Homo sapiens: one gene and its partners. The protein of the gene in region 2 purifies or fractionates together with the protein of the main gene of each other region. This does not show direct contact. Each region holds a gene or a part of one and is shown on either strand. Other genes may lie near its edges.

Evidence for each region. Proteins that work in one complex are often made in the same cells at the same time.
Region 1: the proteins of ITGA4 (region 2) and MYH10 purify together in Homo sapiens (affinity purification with mass spectrometry, with the first as the bait; one large-scale study listed by BioGRID). This does not show direct contact.
Region 3: the proteins of ITGA4 (region 2) and IARS1 purify together in Homo sapiens (affinity purification with mass spectrometry, with the first as the bait; one study listed by BioGRID). This does not show direct contact.
Region 4: the proteins of ITGA4 (region 2) and HK2 purify together in Homo sapiens (affinity purification with mass spectrometry, with the first as the bait; one large-scale study listed by BioGRID). This does not show direct contact.

Annotation. Positions count from the first base shown.
Region 1 is NC_000017.11:8,508,429-8,513,162, forward strand, and holds part of MYH10 (myosin-10), read right to left. Parts: intron 4,230-4,734; coding exon 4,023-4,229; intron 2,758-4,022; exon of another isoform or gene 2,698-2,757; intron 1,522-2,697; coding exon 1,384-1,521; intron 661-1,383; exon of another isoform or gene 323-660; intron 250-322; coding exon 126-249; intron 1-125. UniProt on the Homo sapiens protein: Cellular myosin that appears to play a role in cytokinesis, cell shape, and specialized functions such as secretion and capping. Involved with LARP6 in the stabilization of type I collagen mRNAs for CO1A1 and CO1A2.
Region 2 is NC_000002.12:181,455,248-181,461,089, reverse strand, and holds the start of ITGA4 (integrin alpha-4 isoform 1 preproprotein), read right to left. Parts: upstream 3,705-5,842; 5' UTR 3,436-3,704; coding exon 3,239-3,435; intron 2,895-3,238; coding exon 2,773-2,894; intron 1-2,772. UniProt on the Homo sapiens protein: Integrins alpha-4/beta-1 (VLA-4) and alpha-4/beta-7 are receptors for fibronectin. They recognize one or more domains within the alternatively spliced CS-1 and CS-5 regions of fibronectin. They are also receptors for VCAM1.
Region 3 is NC_000009.12:92,286,901-92,291,634, forward strand, and holds part of IARS1 (isoleucine--tRNA ligase, cytoplasmic), read right to left. Parts: intron 4,023-4,734; exon of another isoform or gene 3,936-4,022; intron 2,527-3,935; 5' UTR 2,520-2,526; coding exon 2,401-2,519; intron 1,383-2,400; coding exon 1,226-1,382; intron 1,074-1,225; coding exon of another isoform or gene 1,011-1,073; coding exon 891-1,010; intron 1-890. UniProt on the Homo sapiens protein: Catalyzes the specific attachment of an amino acid to its cognate tRNA in a 2 step reaction: the amino acid (AA) is first activated by ATP to form AA-AMP and then transferred to the acceptor end of the tRNA.
Region 4 is NC_000002.12:74,878,190-74,882,923, reverse strand, and holds part of HK2 (hexokinase-2), read right to left. Parts: intron 4,237-4,734; coding exon 4,003-4,236; intron 2,660-4,002; coding exon 2,355-2,659; intron 1,214-2,354; coding exon 1,065-1,213; intron 805-1,064; coding exon 685-804; coding exon of another isoform or gene 622-684; intron 1-621. UniProt on the Homo sapiens protein: Catalyzes the phosphorylation of hexose, such as D-glucose and D-fructose, to hexose 6-phosphate (D-glucose 6-phosphate and D-fructose 6-phosphate, respectively).

The DNA of each region.
Region 1 (4,734 bases), on a different chromosome or scaffold from region 2:
CAAACTGAAGGTCCTTATTATTAGTAATCATCATGTATATTTTTTATTTTTGCATGTTCTGATTACAGTAAAAGCTAAACACTCACATGTCCTAGTCCCTGATTTCTCTAGCCCCAAATACTAACCTTCTAAATCTGAGATCATCACTTCTTGCTTATTCCTGATTTTGGCCAAGTTTTTCGCCTTTTCTTCCTCTTCAGCCAGCTGAGAGGAACACTCAGCAATGCGATCTTCCATGAGTTTCTTTTCCTGGACAGGAAAAATTGACTGCTTCAGAAAAGCCATTCAGAATGACCACTTGGGTTCTGTATTCCTCATAAAGGTCAACTTTGACTCGAGAGAAAATAAGTTCTATCGGCACTGCCTCCCCCAGCAGACTGTACACAATCACATGCTGCAGAACGATGTTTTGGACAATGATGAACCGGATACACGACAGTGGTCTCCTAAGATGATCATGGAGCTGAAAACTTCATCGAGAGCTGTCATAACACCACAGTGCAATTACTCTATTTTTAAAATAAATGTACTGCAGCCTCAGTGTGCCATGTTGATAAAGTCTGCAGTCATGTACAGCAATGTCCTAGGCCTTCACATTCACTCAGCGCTCACTCACTGACTCACCCAGAGCAGCTTCCAGTCCTGCAAGCTCCGTTCATGGTGAGTGCCCAATAGAGGTGTGCCATTTTAAATCTTTTCTATCATTTTTACCGTACCTTTTCTATCATATTTTTACTGGACTTTTGTGTGGATATGTTTAGATACACAAGTACTTATTAGCACTGTGTTCCAACTGCCTACAGTATTCAGGACAGTAACATGCTGTACAAGTGTGTGGCCTAGATGCAATCAGCCCAGCGTCTGGTCTAGGTGTATAGCAGGCTCTACCATCTAGTTTGTGTCCATACACTCTATGATGTTTGTACGAGGATAAAATAACTTCACAATGCATTTCCCAGAATGTGTCCTCATCGTTAAACAACACACGACTGTACTCCAAAAGGGCAGAAAGGCTTACACGTCTTGGTGCCCACCCCGGGAGCTTGGCCCAGCTGCCTGGTATTCAGAGTCCCACAGTCAATGGTGGATGAATTAATGCTTGCACAGATGGAGACAAGTCATCATTGAGTGACCATTATGCACAAACTGCACATGTTACAAGTCTAAAAGATTATCAGGATATTTGATAAGGTTTAAAAAATTCAATGGTGCCTGTATCTTTAGAAATCTATACAAGTAGAGACTTACAGAGAAAATTCAGTAAATGAACCTAAAATCTTGAGAAATTTCTGTTTGAGTTCACTTTCAATGAGTGTATCAACATAATATTATATAAATATTTTCTGTAACTAAAATCAGCTTTTTGTGGGAACACTCTCTTACTTTGATGAACTTGGAATTTTGGTCCTCGAGAAGCAGAATCTCCTCTTCCATCTTCTTGATCTTGGCCTCTGCTGTCACCTTTTCCAGCTGCAGCTTTTGCCGAGCCCCTTCCTCCTCGTCTAGCTGTTCTTCCAGGTCCTTGTGAAGAACACACAGTCAGTCTCGCCACTTTCTCGAGATTTGACCACACATTCATTGTGCACAGGAATGCATTACAATGAGATACTAATTTTTTTTTTTTTTTTGACACGGAGTCTCGCTCTGTTGCCCAGGCTGAAGTGCAGTGGTGCCACCTCGGCTCGCTGCAACCTCCACCTCCTGGGTTCACGCCATTCTCCTGCCTCAGCCTCCCGAGTAGCTGGGACTACAGGTGCCCGCCACCACGCCCGGCTAATTTTTTGATTTTTTTTTTGGTAGAGATGGGGTTTCACCATGTTAGCCAGGATGGTCTTGATCTCCTGACCTCATGATCCATCCGCCTCAGCCTAGATACTAATTTTTGATTCTCAAAATGCCAAGGATATTTAAAAAAATATGAAATGCAGTTATGTGAAATAGACATTTGTATCCGCTACAGGCTAAAGTACAAACTGGGTCAATCCTTCTAGAAGCCAACATGGCAAAACATAGCTTTAAAAATGAGCCTTTCCTTTCAACCAGCAATTTCAGGAAATTGTCACAGATGCAATTTATATAAAAAGACATACAGTGATAAGTTATTTATAATATTGAGTAACTATGAACATGCTACAAAAAGGTCTTGGTAATTAAATGTTGGCACATTTGTTAAATGGAATAATATATAGTAATTAAAATTCACATTTTGGAATAATAGCAACACAGACAAACATGAATAATGTAGTAGCACTCATCAAATGTGTATTTAATTTAGCTGAATCCAACTATATACATGTTCGGCCAAAGAAGAGAGAAAGAGAACATGAAAACAATAATTTAAATAGTACAGGTCGTGAGAAATGAGCTGTCTCAGTTCAAGTGTACCTTTCACAGCAGAAGCACCTCATCAAACTGGGCGGGAGCATAGAGTTTACATGTATTTTTATTAGAACGTGCAGATCTTTATAATCTACATTACTGTTTATGATAAACATGCTATTACACAGGATCACAGATAGATTACCCCATTTTATATGAGGTGATTATTACACACTACATGCCTGTATCAAAACATCTCATGTACCCCATATATATATATATATATATATATATATATATATATATATATATACACACATACATACATACACACACACACACTTAATATATACGCATAAAAATTAAAATTAAAAACAAAGTGTTACAGCTCTTTTAGAATTTGTCTAGCAGGATTTCTGGTTTCTGGTGGAAAGCTCCCATCCCCTCCAAAAAACGAAATTAAAAAAAAAGTTAAACAAAACAAAACCCAGGCTGGGCGCAGTGGCTCACGCCTGTAGTCCTAGCACTTTGGGAGGCCGAGGTGGGTGGATCACCTGAGGTCAAGAGTTCGAGACCAGCCTGGCCAACGTGGTGAAACCTCGTCTCTACTAAAAATACAAAAATTAGCTGGGCGTGGTAGCAGGCGCCTGTAATCCCAGCTACTGGGGAGGCTGAGGCAAGGGAATCACTTGAACCGAGGAGGTGGAGGTTGCAGTGAGCCGAGATTGCGCCATTGCACTCCAGCCTGGGCAACAAAGCGAGACTCCGTCTCAAAAACAGAACAAAAAAACAAAAACAAAAACAAACCCCAAAAAACCAAAACTAGGGTTGTACAAATCAACACATGGCCAACTTAAGGAAATGTTCAAGAGTAACTTCGGCTAAATAATTTACTCATCGTTAATTTTAGAATGAAACCATGGCAAAAAATGAGTGTTTTCTTGTAAAAATTTCAAACACACATACAAGCACACAGACCAGCATAATAAGCCCCACACAGAAGCATCACCTTGACCTTAACAAGCATCAACTCATGGTCAATTCCATTTCATGTGTGCCTCCACCTGCTCCCTTCTCCCCCTAGGTTATTTTGAAGCAAATCCCAGACATCATATTTCACTTGTAAAACCTTCAGGCTGTACCTCTAAAATATAAAGACCATTTAAAAAGCACATTTGTCTGTTTCAATCACAATCCAAAAATTGTGCCTCATGAGTACAGCCTGTATTTCAAAAAGAAAGTTAAGTACCAGGGAAGGGCTAATTTTTAAAAATTCTCATTCTGACTGTTGGCCACCTCCTATGTCAGTGCTGAGCGTTTCTTATTAGCCAAACCACGTAGTAGATGTCTATCTAATGAATGGAGTGAGCAACAGAATCACTGACAACATGAAGAACAAGTTAGGTCTTCTACAGAATGCTATAGATCCTGGGAGGTTTGCGACTGTGAATCTCTTTGCAAACTGTAAGATGCCACTTAGAACATAAAAAAGATTCCTATACAAAATGACAAATCTTTGTTCAAAGAAAATCTATTATAGGTGTGTTTCAAATGATGGTCATCTTTCTAAGAGTGGCTTCTCATAACCCAGAACCCTTTTGCTTCTCTGTGGACTTAAGAATCCAAACACATAACTTCTGTTTATTCAACAGATCCACTTGAAAATCCAAAATATGCTTCTAAGTAAAAATTATTATACATACCTGAATATGTGCTTGCATTTTTTTCTTTTCATTTTGGAGGATTTGGTTTCTTTCTTCTTCTTCTTCAACCCTAGACTCCAAGTCATGTAGAATCTCTTCTAATTCCTGCTTTTTAGCAGCAAGTCTTGCCCTCATCTCTTCTGCTTCAGCAAAGAGCTCAGTCTCTGCTTGTAGTTGTTCTGCAAGGATATTCTTCTCTTCTAAAAGCTGCAATCACAATAAAGTGTCTGTGATTTGCCCCTATTACATACGTACACAGTATATATTCGCCGTGATTTCAATGGTCAATGCACATCAAAGAAACTGGGAGATAAAAATATATAACATCACGGGAAGAACTTTCAAATACGTTTTTGTCTATAGCAAAATAAGCAAGATGAAAATATTTTGGTTGTTCCTGTTGTCTCAAGTTACTGTGAATAATACATATTAAATTCATGATAGTTCATCTATGAAGGTAATTTACAAGGGACAGATAAATAGGAGAGTGAAAATATTATTCAAATGCCATAAAGTTCATGGTGATTACTAATGCCTGTTTGGTAGTAAGTGATATCCTTGGCCTTTATTGTTAATATTTTTGGCCTTGAACACTATAATTCTATTATTGCCACAACAAACATCTCCTGAGCCTCAGCTTTGTCCATGAAGAAAACTTCCCAGAAGAGGGACACACATTCAAGACCACTGCTGCTAGAGAAGTTCAGGTGGT
Region 2 (5,842 bases):
ATCTGAATCAACCACTGATCTGAAATTCTACAGAGACTCAAAGACTAGTCCATGTGGATATTTTTAATTGTGTGGGAGATGGGCACCATTTGAAGACCCTACACCTTCAGGTTCTTGATAGCAAGTAAAGCTATTCCAAAGGAAAGAAGATACCTTACTGACATGGCAATCACAGATCGATCTTTAATCATTATAACATTTTTTTCTTCAGCCAACAAAAATTTCTCATTGTGTTTCATTTCAACTTCTACCTTTTAATGTATTACCTTTTAATTTTTAAACTTTTGGTTCAGTTTATCAATTGTCCCTATTAACCTCAGCCTGCTTGTTACAGATAACATACAGATAATAGATTTAAGTAAACAATAAAGAAGAACCACTATTTTTTGAATGTATTATGTGTCAGTACTGAGCTAAGCATTTTTGAAACATTAGAGTCACCCACATTTGAAACAGGACAACTGAAGCTATTTTATACAGAAGATTCACACACACACACACACACACACACACACACACACACTCTTCTACAGAAGATGGCTTATATATATTTACACACACTCTTGAAACTTCTTCATACAAAATAGTGCATAGCCCACAAACCTAAGAATCCTAAATTATCTTTATTACCAATGTATTGTTTTTAGTGTTTTATTTCTAGACTGTAGCCTCAATCCCTATTTTATAGCTTCAAGCTACCACTGAATTTATTCTGAATAGAGAGGCAGTTTCTTTACATGAGGAATAAAAGATATCTGTATTCTTTAGAATGTTACATGAGAAATAACTTCAGTCAACTCTTCGGCAAATACTCAAGGCATTACTATCACTATTAATGTTTTAACTCATTGACTGACTAGGAATCTTGCCTTTTTTCCTTTCATCCCAGTAAATACCTTGTAGATTGGCCAAAATTTTGAAAGTTAAAAATCAGTTTGGCTCATCATTTCTAATCAATTATCTTACTCATCAGTCAGGTTGATAAATTTTCACTCCACTTTTATTCATTCATCCATCCAAAAGATCTTCATTTAATTCATATCTATGACATATCTACTATGTTTACATTTCTCTGAGAACAGTCAACTCCCATGCTACACATGCCCAAACAATTTTTTCCTTCCATTGACAGGCATTATCTTAAATTTAATACAGTATTATGTCATGATTTATCCAGTTAAACACAGACATCCAGAAATAGATTCAGTGTCCATCCAGACAGGAAGTAGGCACTAAATATCAGTAGTTATAATGTCATGGATCAGGAAACTATGACAGGACAACAGAAATAAAATTGCTCCCTCCTGAGACCTTGCCAAGATCCTCTGGCAGACCAAAGTTGTCGGCTCCACTCCCTAATTCTTCACCCACAACTCTCTCATGCAATGAAAATTATGCTTTGCAAAATCATTCCAAAATGTATGGGTCTGTGAATGTTTTATGCATTCCTACTGTGATTTCTGGTATTGAGGATGCTTAACAAGAGGCTAGGGCTTATTCTACATGCTACAGACAACTCGTAGACTTTTATAGGTGCTCTGAGTTAAAAGTAAAAATTCCATTATGTTTATACTCTATCTGAATTCATCTGAATGAAGGGAACCAGCTTCACAGTTTGAAAAAGAGCAAAGACTACTATAAAATACAAAAGAAGTTAAAGATCCAATAACTAATCTCAAAAGTCCATTTATAGCAAAGAAATATAAAGAAGTACCAATTTTATTCACCGTTTACAGATGACCCATCAGCTCAGCAGACAACATATTAAACCATTCACTTAATTTTATTTGCATTGAAGATACATACATGGAAGAAAATGGCTTAGACTTTGGACGCATTCAGACCCTAGTTTGACTTTAGTTCCCACCTATCAGTCACTAGCTAAGTAACTTTTAAAAAGGTATTTGCAACTCTGAGCCACAGTCCTCATACATAAACTAGGAACAATGTCAACCATGACCCAGGGTTGCTTTAAGGGGAAAAAAGTTAAGCAATATATATAGCAGTAACACTTTGGAACAAGATAGGTCTTGTTATTTAATATTCCTTCCTCTTTCCCCACTTGCCTGTGTGCAACAAACTTGTCTTTGGCTTTGAAACATGAAACTTCTCCCCTCTATCAGTACACATTTTTCAACTTGTCACAAATCTGAGACATTGAGAAATGACTGCAAAAAGATGGACCCATATAACATGAGTTTTGGATGACGGTTTTGGGAATGGAAAATTATACTACATTAACGATGAAGATGCCAATTTTCCTTTTCTTTTAGATTGTATATTGTAAGTAAAACTATCACTTTTTTTTTTAGGCCTTTAGGTTAAACGACGGGATATGGGATCAATTCCAATTGCTATTCCTGATATGCTCCTTAGCCTGTTCTTTAAGAGGGTTGATAGGTCAAAGATGGAAATAAAATTCTCAAGTCTTGGCTTAGCTGGATCCTGTCCTTAATACGCTGAGAGAGTCTAAAATGTGCTTTACACACGGAGAGACGGGGAGAGATGAAGAGAAGGTATCATAAGAAATTTCTCTAGCATAGTTGTCAGAGTACTGCAATCATTGCCATAAGGAAAAGGGAGAACGATATTAACAGAAAGGGAATCCCTTTTATATTAAGGAGGCAAGATGAGATGGAGTTGAAACTGAAAACTTTATGCTCTTTAAACCAGAAGTAACAGGCAACGTGAATCTTTCCAGGACTTGCCCTATGGTGGGGTCCACATGGGGGGTCGGGAGGTCACTAACTCCTGGTCCCATACCCAACTCACCCAGCTGGAGCTGTTCGCACGTCTGGCCGGGATTCTTTCCGATCCTGCATCTGTAAATCGCCCCGGGATTGATCACTGAAGCGTTGGCGAGCCAGTTGGCAGTGGGCGCACCCACTAGGAGCCTAAAGCGAGACACGTGCACGTGCGCTCAGACGTGAGCTGTGCTGCCCACTGAGCTCCCTGTCGCCACAGATGTGCAGTCCGCAGCAGGGCAGCTTCCCCACCTCCTCCTCCGCCCACCACCCCCGACTCGAAGCTCCAAGACCTTGCACCATAACGCACCCGGGGCGCTGCCGCCCCAAGATAAGTTAGTTTCCCTGGCAGATTTCCAGCGAGCTGGCTCTCGCAGCGTTTCCCTCCTGCCTCCTTGGGAGGGAGGAAAGTTTGAATCGGGCAGGGAATCCCTAGGGCGCCATTCTCACGCCGCTCTGAGCTGCTGAGGGCGCATCAGTCCAACTCTACTCACCATCGGTTCGCCCCGTGGCTGTGCAGCACGACCGAGTAGCCGAACAGCGTGTTGTGGGGGCCCTGGTAAAGCAGCGCGCTCTCAGTGTCCACGTTGTAGGGGCGGCCGGTCGGGACCCCCAGGCACAGCAACAGCATCACCGTCTCCCGGACGGCGGCCCTTCGGGGGCCGGGTTCGCGCCTCGCTTCCCAAGCCATGCGCTCTCGGTGGGGAACATTCAACACTAAACGGCCACTACCCCAAAGTTGCACGGGATGCGACGGTTGGCCAACGGGGAAGAACGCCCCAAGAGATGAGGCGCAGCGTGTCCGGCGCCAGCGGGCTAAAGGAAGGAGAGAGGGAAGAGGAGGGGAAGTCGGCCCACCGCGGGCGGAGCGTTCGGGCCGGCCTGGGATGCCGCGCACTCGCCCGGCCCCACTCCCGGTTTCTGCCGCCAGCCGGGAGCTTCGGGTGCTCGCGCTGCTTCTCCGGGTACGGGCCGCTGGGTGGGGTCCCGGGCGTGGTGCGGAGGCGCAGGGCCGGGCTCCGTCTCTGCCTACGCGCGGCTGCAGGGGGCGCTGGGGAACCTCGGCTGCGCAGGACTCGCGTCCTGGCCCGGGCCTCCCAGCCCGCAGAGCGCGGGATGGCTCTGGGCTCAGCAAGAGCGGACCTGATGGGGCACGGGCTTCCCCTTTTAACGGTGGTTGGGGCCTAGAAGCGGAGCTGTGTGACCCCAAACTGCGCGCCCCTCGCTGTGACCGCCCAGCCCGGCGTGGCCCAAATGCCAGCCACAAACTCGGGGAGTGGGACTGCGGCGGGGAGCCGTCCAGTTCTTTCGTTGATAGTTAAACACTGTGTCTTGTTTTTCAGGTGTAGGCAACCACTAGATAAATTATCAAGAGCCACAGATTAAAAACAAAAAACCAAACAAAAAGACTCGCCGAAGGCCCCTGGGGAACATTTTAGTGACAAAGACGTTATGGCTATTCTCTTCAAGACCCACATCTCAGCACCCTTCTATACCCACTTCCTTCCTCCCCACACTTCCTCTGCAGCCCGGGCTGCATGCGTGAGCAGGCTAGCAGCAGCCTCTCAGGCTGAACGGCAGGCGGTTTAGGCTGTGGCTGACCCCAACAGAGAGGTTGGGTTAAGGAAGCACTGTGACTTGATTCACTTTAACCGATTCGGATTGCTCCAGCTGGTAATTGATGATCCCCCCTTTTCACGCACCCACTCAGTTGCCACGGGACACACCTGCTTTTAGGGGTGTAAACCCCAGTGTGGGGTCAGGGTCCTAATGAGCCTCTGAAATGTGCCGGAGACCCACAACGCAACACACCTGAACTGGGTAGTGAGTCTCATTCTAATGCAATCCAGGTGTGCCCTGCCTTTTTTTTTTTTTTCCTTCAGCAACCAGAGAGACAGCCATAGGTGATTATTAGACTGATATTTTCAGGAGATGAAAGTCTAGTTTTTTATTGTTGCTATATGTAAAAAGAAAAGAAAAGTCTGCATCAAAGAGTGTGTCTGTGTGCTAAAACCATGCTGGAATAAATAACACATCTGACACTAATGACAGATACACAATTAAAATGCTTATTCATTTATTCAGCACATTCATGGAGCAGGCACTTGACTAGGACCACAGGATTCCACCAAGAGTAAGGCAGGACTGATACAAAGTTTCAAAAAATGTTCGCTCCAATGGTAGATAGAAAAATTTGTACTAACTAGAGAAAGATCCAGGTAAGGACACTTAAAGAGAGATTTGAAGGACCAGGAATCTTGAATCAGGCTAAGAATGGGATGAGCAATAAGGAGGGCTCCAGAGGAGCCAGGTAGAAGAACTGAGAGAGCTTGCCTGGCTAGAGTATTTAGCCACTCCACACACAGGTTGGTGTGATATGAGGCTGACTTAGGGAAGCAGGAATACATGGTGAACCTCATGAGCCAGGTTAGGAATTTTAAATCTATGTTGGGACTGACAGGAAGTTGAAGAATTTGTCTCGGTCAGCTCTGGGTTTCAGAAGTGTGAATGCAAGACTGAACACAGAAAACCTAATTTTGGAAGCCCCTGCAGCAATAAGTAGAGATAGGATAATCCCAAGGGGAAGTATTTCTCTTTCTTGAAAGAGAATGGTGCTACCATTCATGGAGAAAAAAACACTGAGAAATGAAGTTATATGCATGTATGTGTGCATGCAGATGGGGGCATGGATGGGTTAAGTTTTAGCCATGTGGAGTTTGAGATGTTTATGGAATGACAGGATATTCTAGCCAAACTCAATGCAATTATTTTCAGTCTGTCAACAGACAAAACATGAGGAATATTAACTTTCTCTTACTCTATACTGGAAAAAGTCAATACAGTGTGTGATAAATCTATTGTAAAAATGAAATGGCTTCCAGAAAGCTAACAATCAGGGCCCATGGCTGTTTCTTTCTGTAGTAGTGCTGAGTGTGTTTCTTTCTTAGTAGATCTACATGCTGATTTTAACCCAGTTCCACAATGAGCTTACAGTGTCGTTATTCTGAACTATGCAATCCTTCTTGTTTACAGCTACAAAACCTCCAGTTGAGGCCAAGGAAGTAGGTATGTTGAAGCCATTCTGACACCCTCCAGAA
Region 3 (4,734 bases), on a different chromosome or scaffold from region 2:
TGGCAAAAACCATCCATGGATGTTAAAATTAATAAGTGAATGTATGACAAAAAAAAGAATATTTGGAAAGAATCTCCCCACAAGATACTTATTAATTACAAAGGAAAAACTACAACTTTACAAAGCAGAAAGCTGACAGCACTTTAACCAAGTGAACAAAGTTATCACCATCAATGTGACATAGCCGCAACACATGCCACCTGATATAATGCATTGAGAAGGGCATAGCATCACTTCTGTGGCATTGTCACCAAAAATGCATAACCTAAATTAAATCAGGAAACCTCACACATTGAGAGACATTATAGAAAATAGCTGTTCTGCAATCTTCAAAAGTGAGAAGGCCATGAAATACAAAGGACTAAATAAATGTTCCATACTTAAGAAGACTAAAAAGACATGACAACCAAATGCAATATGTGATTGGTCAGAAATAAAAATTAATGGGGCAACTGCTTTTGAAAATTCTATTAATATTATGGTTACCGAAGATGTTAGCAGCTGGGAAAGATGGATGAAGGATATAGGGGAACCCATCATACTACTTTTTCAATTGTTTAATAAGTCAAATTATTTCAAAATGAAAAGTTAAAAAAATTGAAAAAAGTATTTGAGAAAAAAAGAAAAGGCCTATATATCATGTTATACTTATTAGAATTTTTCCCTATTGGTGATCATGCAAGAAAGTTAGACCAATTAAGCACACAGAAGTCAGAAGAGAGATGGTTCAGTTTAAGCTAACCGTTTAAGTAATAGGGTTGAAGGTGGAAGCTAACACTTTTTCTACAAAAAATAAATTAATAAAAAAAGCACAAGGGACCATAAACCATTTCAATGCCCATTTAGTAACTACATTTGCTGTTCATTCTACTGAAAAAAACCCAACATACCTTCCACTCAGCAGAATATCTCATCACAATTGCTCGGCACTGATTGTTATACTCTGTAATCCCCATTTTGGCCACATCCTCTGGTCCTCTGATTCCCAGTGTCTTATCAATTTCATATTCCTGAAAATTTGTGATAAGACTGTTACCACGCTGCCCTATGAAAACAACTGCAACTATGCAACTCTAGAAAACAAAACAAATCAAACTACAAATATTATAGAAATGAACTAGAAGGTCTGACAGTCAACGTTCATCATACTTGAACATATTATATGACAAAATCTAATGCTTATAAAAAAAATCAGAAAATTATAAAGCTGGATACTCAAACATACCACAGGTAAGCCATGGCAATCCCATCCAAATCTTCTGTCAACATGAAACCCACTCTGGTGAGCATATCTTGTAACTATATCTTTAATTGTACCCGCAAGTATATGTCCATAGTGAGGCAGTCCAGTTGCAAAAGGAGGACCATCATAGAAGGTAAATCTAACAGGTAATAAAAATATATCAAGCCATTTAAAAACAGCCAAAATTTAAGGCATTTTTCTATAGATAGCTCTTGTCATAGTGGAGTCTTCAAGGAGAAAAGCAGCAAGATCAGGAAACCGACAGACATAATTGATTTGATATTTACTGGTGGTCCTGCCTTCAGAAAGGCTACAATTGTGGTAGAGCTACAGAGACCTCCATTTGATTATCCATTTTTCATTTATTAGTTCCATGACATAAGGCAAATTATTTATCCTGATCTTGAGTTATCTCATCAGTAAAATAGGGCAATAAACCCCTATCTCATAGTTTTTGACCAGAGGAGACATATAATGAAAACACTGATTAAAGGACTAGTCTTTTAGGTGAATGAGGACTAAAGGCAGGTAGTACTATAGTAGCCTTCTATGGGGTACTTAGGTATAAGTGCCTAAACGAGGGTGGTGATGAAAATAAAGGTGGAAAGAGGGTGACACGGAGGATGACACATAAATTTTACTCAGATGACCTTTTAAAGAAACAAAATTTACCCCAATAATTGAGAACTCATTCATTCAATGTATATCTACTACTGAGTACCCACTACATAGGGAGCTGGGGGATTCTGGGAATAGAAAGATTAATAAAGAGTATCTGCTTTAGGCCGCGCGTGATGGCTCACACTTGTAATCCCAGCACTTTGAGAGGCCGAGGTGGGTGGATCACTTGAGGTCAGGAGTCCGAGACCAGCCTGGGCAACATGGTGAAACCCCGTCTCTACTAAAACACAAGAATTAGCTGGTGTGATGGCGGGCACCTGTAATCCCAGCTACTCGGGAGGCTGAGGCAGGAGAATCACTTGCATCCGGGAGGCAGAGGTAGCAGTGAGCAGAGATTGCACCACTGCCCTCCAGCCTGGATGACAGTGCGAGACTCCATCTCAAAAAAAAAAAAAAAAAAAAAGTATCTGCTTTAATGGAATTCAGTCTAAGAAATGACTATTCTTAAGGGAACTTAACCTAAAAAATTCACATACTTTGGTTTATGTTTTGATTGCTTTAAGCATTCCTGAAAACAATTAAATTCAGTCCAAAACTCCAAGATTTTCTCTTCTTCAGCAGGAAAATTTATGTTTTCTGGAACTTGTTGAAGCATTTTGTTGCTGCAAAAGAAATCAAATTTATTACTGTCAAAAGAGAAATCTAGGAATAACAGAGTACCATATTATTAACATGGGTGTACATGACACTATCCATACTTTTAAAAAATTACAGCTTTATTGATGTACAATTTACATAGTGTAATGTAAAAAGTGTACAATTCAGTGGCTTTTTAGTATATTTACAAGGTAGTATAACTAGTAATACCTAATTTCAAAACGTTTTCAACCTCCCCTCCCCACCAAAACACCCCAAAACCATTAGCAGTCACTCCCCATTCTTTCTTCTCCATAGCCAGTGGCAACGATTTATCTTCTTTCTGTCCCTGCAGATTTACCTATTCTGGACATTTCATATAAATGGGAAAATTTATAGGAATCATCTATATGTGGCCTATTGCATCTGGTTTCCTTTCTCTAGCATGTTTTCAAGGCTCATCCATGATGTAATATGTATTCATACTTCATTACTTTTGATAGCTGAATAGTATTCCATTTCATGAATATGCCACATTTTGTTTATCCATTCATCATTTCTTGGATACCTGTATTGTTTCCACTTTTTGGTTATTACGAATAACGCTGCTATGAACATTCACATACAAAATTTTGTGTGGATCTATGTTTTCATTTCTCTTGGGTTTGTAGCTAGAAGTAGAATTTCTGGGTCACATGATAATTCTGTATTTAACTTTTTGAGAAAATGCCAAAATTTTTCCAAAGTGACTGTACTATTTTACATTCCCTCAGCAGTGAATGAGGATTCTAATTTCTTCAGATCTTACCCAACACATCTTATTGTCCATCTTTGAATTACAGTCATTCTAGGAGATGTTAAGTAGTATCTTGTGGTTTTGATTTGCATTTCCCTAAGGACTAATGATGCTGAGCATCTTTCCACATGCTTATTGGCCATTTGCGTATCCACGTTGGATAGATATTTATCCTTTGCCTATTTTCTAATTGGGCTCTTTTTGTGGTTGGGTTTTAAGGGTTATGTATACATCCTGGATACAAATCCTTTATCAGATATATGATTTATAAAAAATTTCTCCTGTTCTGTGGGCCGTCTTTTTATTTTCTTGATGGCATTTTTTGAAGCACAAAGATTTTTCATTTTAATGATGCCCAATTTGTCAATTTTTGGTTTTGCTGCTTGAGCTTTTGGTGTCATCAATAAACCATTACCTAAACAAGGTTATAGATTTTTCGCTTACATTTAGGCCACAAATAATTTTATTTTCGTATATGGTGTGAGGGAGGGGTACATGGCTATTATTTAATATTCAGTAATGGTAGAGACAATGTTTCCAAAAGTAAGCAGGAAAATCTTGGAAATTCTATCTAGTGGTGCAAAAAACTCATTAATAATCTGAAGAAAAATATCTCAAAGTAGTTAAGAATTTTCTTACCTACACTCACATGACAGAAATCAGTTCTCTTGAAGTAACTTCATCTTCTCTTTGAGGAAAACTGGTAAAACTTAAAAAATCTTAAAGCTAAAAAGATGAGAATCTCACATTCAAATATAGATTCCAGTTTTCCATTTTACCCTTTTTATTGCTTATTCATGATTTTTATGAAGGATGAGCCCTATACCTTTCTGGTTTAGTCCCTAATGAGAGAAGTCTTAAAGTGTCTTTTTAAATGTTTTGCTAATAACCTCATGCAGAGATACTTGATCAATCTATGACTTAAGTATCTAGTGAGCCACCCTTGAGACCTTTCCTTCTCAAAGTCTATTTATATTTACTTAACAATTCTAACAAGGTGGGTGACGAGCTTTCCAAGTCAGTATCAGATCAGAAGGGGATAAAATTGCTAATAAGGGAACAACAGAGAAGATAAAAAATCTTAAGTACTCAAGAACCACAACAGACCAGGGTAATCAACTCTACAGGAAAAGACACCTACATACCTCAAACAGTTTTGAAAGCATCAAAAGCATCATAGTCTAATCAAGTTATTGATTCAAGTTATCATTTAAAAAAAAGTCTGTGACAAGTAGTATCTTTCATTTTCTTTTACCCTCATTAATTTTTCAGATGTGTGAGTGCCTCTGAGTTTAATTTAAGAAAAAACAGGACAAGAACAGTTGGGCTGTTTAACTAACTGAAATAGCTATTTCTGATCACAGTATGCCATTAAAAGGTATTAAACAGAAGGTTTAAGGCATTTTAGATCTTCAACTCTTATTATAACCTCTAGCCT
Region 4 (4,734 bases), about 110 Mb from region 2:
CCAAACAACAGGATATGGCATGAAAATGCCCTGAGCCCATAACAAGGGCCTCAGGAGCCCCACAGCATAACTGACAGCACAGGCTCAGGCATCAGGAACCCAGAATCCAAATCTTGGCTTGGCCAGTCCCAAGCTATTATGACCTGGAGCAAGACACCCAGCACCTCTGTGGGGCTTATCTTCCTTTCTGTAGAATGGGTATTCAAACATATCTCTTATATGGTTGCTGTGAGGGTTAAACGAGATAATGCAGGTAAGAAACCTAACATAGTACCTGGCACACAGTAAGTGCTTAAAAATGCTATATATATATATATAAGTTCAATAGAGATGGGGTCTTCCTATGTTGCCTAGGCTAGTCTTGAAATCCTGGCCTCAAGTAATCCTCCTGCCTCAGCCTCCCAAAGTGCTGAGATTACAGGTATGAGTCACCACACCCGGCAGTTGTTAACATTGAGTAGCATCATCATCGTTGTCCCAAAGGCTGTCACAGCTGAGCTAACCTACTTAACCTCCACCAGCCTCAACTTACTCATTCCCATCAAGGAGCCCCTCCCCACTACTGGTAACTCACGCCCTCCTTTCCTTAGTCTTAGCTCAACTTTCTCCCCTGCTCCATACCTGGCTGGTTTTGTTTAGAGTCAATAAAGCCCACAGGAGAGCCCTCCAGGAAGGTGCTGTTACCTCGTCCAGGCTGTTCTGCTGGCAGGGGAAGGAGAAGGTAAAACCCAGAGGCAGGGACACGCCCTTCATGCCCATGTACTCGAGGAAGTCCGCGATGCACTGGACAATGTGGTCAAAGAGCTGCAGGGAGAAGTTAGGACACTGAGGGAGGGGCCCTGGGCAGGGCAGGCTGCCCCCAGTAGGGCCTGCGCACAACATCAATGTTTCTTTCCACCCAGAAGAAATGCAGGCTCAGGCACAAACCTGAGTCAAGACCAGGCTGCAGCCCTGGGTCCAGCTAGCCCTCCCCAGGGTCACAGATGAGCAGAGAAAGCACTGTCCTCGAAGGCAAGAGGTGACGTCCACCAGGGGCCCCCTCCTGAAGGCGCCGCCCTGCTCACCTCGTCCCCGGTGCCGTGCATGACCTCCTGCGGGATGGCGTAGATCTTGTTGTGCATCTCCACTCCACCCCACTTCCCATTCCGAACACGGACCAGCAGGACCCGGAAATTTGTTCCTCCAAGGTCCAAGGCCAAGAAGTCCCCTTTCTCTGGAAAATAAGCCCAGGGAAGTGATAAGTTGGGGCAGAACATGGGGAATGTGGAGACAGTACACTTAAAACGATCCAAATACACCATTCCTGTTCCATCAAATGCCACTTTATATTACATTCTAGAATACAGAAGGAACAGAAGAGTCCAGCTCCCTGAAGGAAGCTGAAGGGAAATCTTTTAAACTGAGAAAACCCTCCCTTGTTGGACAATTACAGTGTGCCACATGCTTCACACACAGTCCTCGTTCAACCCTTAGGCAGCCCTGTGAGGGAGACACTGCATTCCTCTCTTAAGGATGATTGGGATCTGGCTGATAGTTAAATCACTTGCCCGGGGCCATACGACCAGGACAGGGTAGAGCAGGGACCAAATCCCAGTCTGTCTCTGGAACCTGTAACAACTGTGCTACACTGGCCTGCTCATCGACTGTCTTCTCTGAATTGGAATAAGACCACCATTTCTGAGGTTACAAGACTTACAGCAGGGGTCAGAAATCTTTTTCTGTAAAGGCCCAGACAGCAAACGTTTTAGGCCCTGTGGGTCATGCAGTCTTTGCTGCCACCACTCAACTTTGCCAAGACAGTGCAAAACAACCATAAGCAACGTGCAGACGCATGGGCATGGCTGTGTAATAAAACCTTATGTACAAAAACAGGTGGTGGGCCAGATTCAGCCCATGGGCCATAGTTTGCCAACCCTGACTCAGACCAATGTGGTGATTGCAAGAGCAGATTCTAGAACCTGAATTCCTGGGTTTGAATCCCAGCTCCGACATTTTCTAGTTGTGTGAATTTAGGCAGGTGTCTTAACTTCTCTGCGCCTCAGTTTTCTGTCAAACATAGGTGAATACATAAAATTAACTGCTAATATTTTTTAACAGTTAACAAAGATTAAATGAGCTCATACACATAAAGTGCTTTGACACACAGTAAGCATTCAATAAGTGTTGACCATTACTACTGTTTGCAGAGGAGCACCTTGTTTGAGTTTATCAAAGACTAGAACTCCCTAGTAATACGGCTGAAGAAACGTGTTCTGGTTCAAATGTCCAATGCTAATGCTAAGGGATCCCTCCCAGGGTATCAACACCAGGACAAAGGCCCACCATGTGAGCCAGGTGGCAACCCTGCCGTGTACCTGTGCCGTCCGGGGTAGCACACACGTAGGTGGGCAGCATCTTGACGGGGGCACTGGCATGAGTCTCCTTGCTCAGACCTCGCTCCATTTCTACCTTCATCCTCCTCTTGACCTCCAGCAGCTGGTCATGGCTCAGCTGCAGATGCTCTAATGTCTTCTGGCGGGCACGGTGTTGATCGGCCAGCCGGTAAGCCACTGCTGTCACCATGGCTGCACCTTTGCCACTGCCATCCTCGGAGCGGAGGAAGCGGACATCGCAGCCGGGCACCAGCCGCCGCACGGTCTTATGTAGACGCTTGGCAAAACTGCAGTTCCCCAGGGCGGGTAAGAGACAGGTGTCCATGGTTAGGGTCAATGGTGCAAATAGTTAGACAGTTGCCCACCGCCTTAATCCAAATGCCAAAAGGCACCTGCAGGAGTGGGTGCTGCCCTAAACATCCTCTCTCCACTGTCCCAAGTTAGGAACCACTACAAGAACCATATCAACTATGACCACCCAGGATTGGTTCACCCCCGCCAATGAAAGGAAAAGACCTTTTAATAAGCCACTGTCCCCTACATGCAGCCACACAAGACCTCCTCTTCCTCACTGAAGAAGGCCCCCTGGCCACTGCTCCCTTGCCCAACATGGTACCATCAGCCTCTTTGCTGGAGCAGCCCTGTGGTATTAGGTGGTTCTGATGCCACCTATCTGTCTTGTTCTATCACTCATTTCACTAGCTGCTGTCTGGGAAAGACCCAAAATTAAAAGCTAGAGATGCTCTTCTGGACTTTAGCCTCTCTTTTGCCAGTTTCTGCCAATGATCCCAAAGGTGTCTGCACAGCTAAAGACAACGTGTTCAGCCAGGAACTCTCTGGGTAGTGGCCACTTGGAGCCATGGTCTCCAGGGCCTTCCTACTCCAAGTGCAGGAGTAGGCTGCAGCCTACTGGGGGCTGTTAGAGATGCGGGATCTCAGACTCACCCCAGACCTTCTGATCAGAATCTGCCTCTTAGCAAGATCCCCATGTGATTCACGTGCACACTCGAGTTTTTGCAACACTGGGTAGGAAGAGGGAATCTCAGGGCTGAGGCCTCCTGCACCGACAAGTTAAGAAAACAAAGGCACATTGACCTGGCATTCTTATTAGGTGAAAATGATGGGGAAATAAGTAGGCACAATAAAGAGACATCTTCCAGGTCTCAGCTGACATGTGAATATTCTGGTACCTATGACCTGAGGGATCAAAATGTGGACAGGGCAGGATCAATTTAATACCAAGGTCAGCCAGAGAAGCTGGTAACCCTCACTGGGCTGGGGTGGTCCCTGGCAGAGGACATAGCACCTGCAGGAATCACCAAGAATTCTAAGAGTAAAGACAGGAACAATAACGCATACAAGAGGGTGGCAAAGAGAGTGTCCAGCAGCCAGAGGAGCTCTGCGGAGAGCCCGAGTCATCAGTAGCCTTCAGAAATCACCTCCACCCACACCAGATATGACTTCCTCCCATTCCCCCTTGCCCAGGTGGGAACTTTCATTCCACCAAGACCCTCAGCTCTATGGTCCCTCCACACCACCCCTGAAATGCAAAATGGAGCTGGCATGAGGAGTCACTCAGCCCCAGGTACTCCAGGAACTCCGCATCTCCAGGCCCTGCACACTGACTCACTGGGGGTGTTTCTTGTAGACGGAACCGTCGACCCCAATAGTAGAGCGCAGCCGCTCCTCGCCTTTGTTCTCCTTGATGCGCTGCAGCACGGCGGCCAGGGTGGCTGCGCACAGGCTGGCGGAGCGTGTGGACACGATCTGGCAGATCCGGTGAGTGGCCACGCAGTCCTCCTGAGTCGGGTCCAGGCCCAACCGCATCAGGACCTCACGGGCCTTCCGGATGCCATCCTTCTCCCTGGGAAACAGAAAGATAGCATGTGGGCCTGTGTCTGACCCACTGTGGCCAGTGTGTGTGTCGGGGGGTGGCAAGGAAGCCCTTTAGTTCCAGCAAATTCACCACCCAGTGGGGACAGAATCCCTCTTCATTGCTTAGTCCACCTGTGCAGGGGCAGGAGGAGGAGGAAGGGGGTGCAAAATATAGCACAGCCACCCTGAGGCTCCTCTCCCAGACACCACACACACACGCACACGCATGTGCGTGCGCACACACACACACACACACACACACAGAGACACACGGAGTTGAGAAACACAAGTATTTCTTATGCATGTGCTATGTAAAAACAAGGCCCTGTTCTTGGTGCTTTACCACCAAGTTGTGTGTGTGAGAGTTTGTGTTACATCTGCTTGTGTTAGGGGAGACAGACAGTGTCTCTGCTGTCAGCCACTCTCAACATGTGAACCCTGCGGTGATGCCCACCTGGTTTCTCTCTCTAAAGCAGTAGGAGTCTAT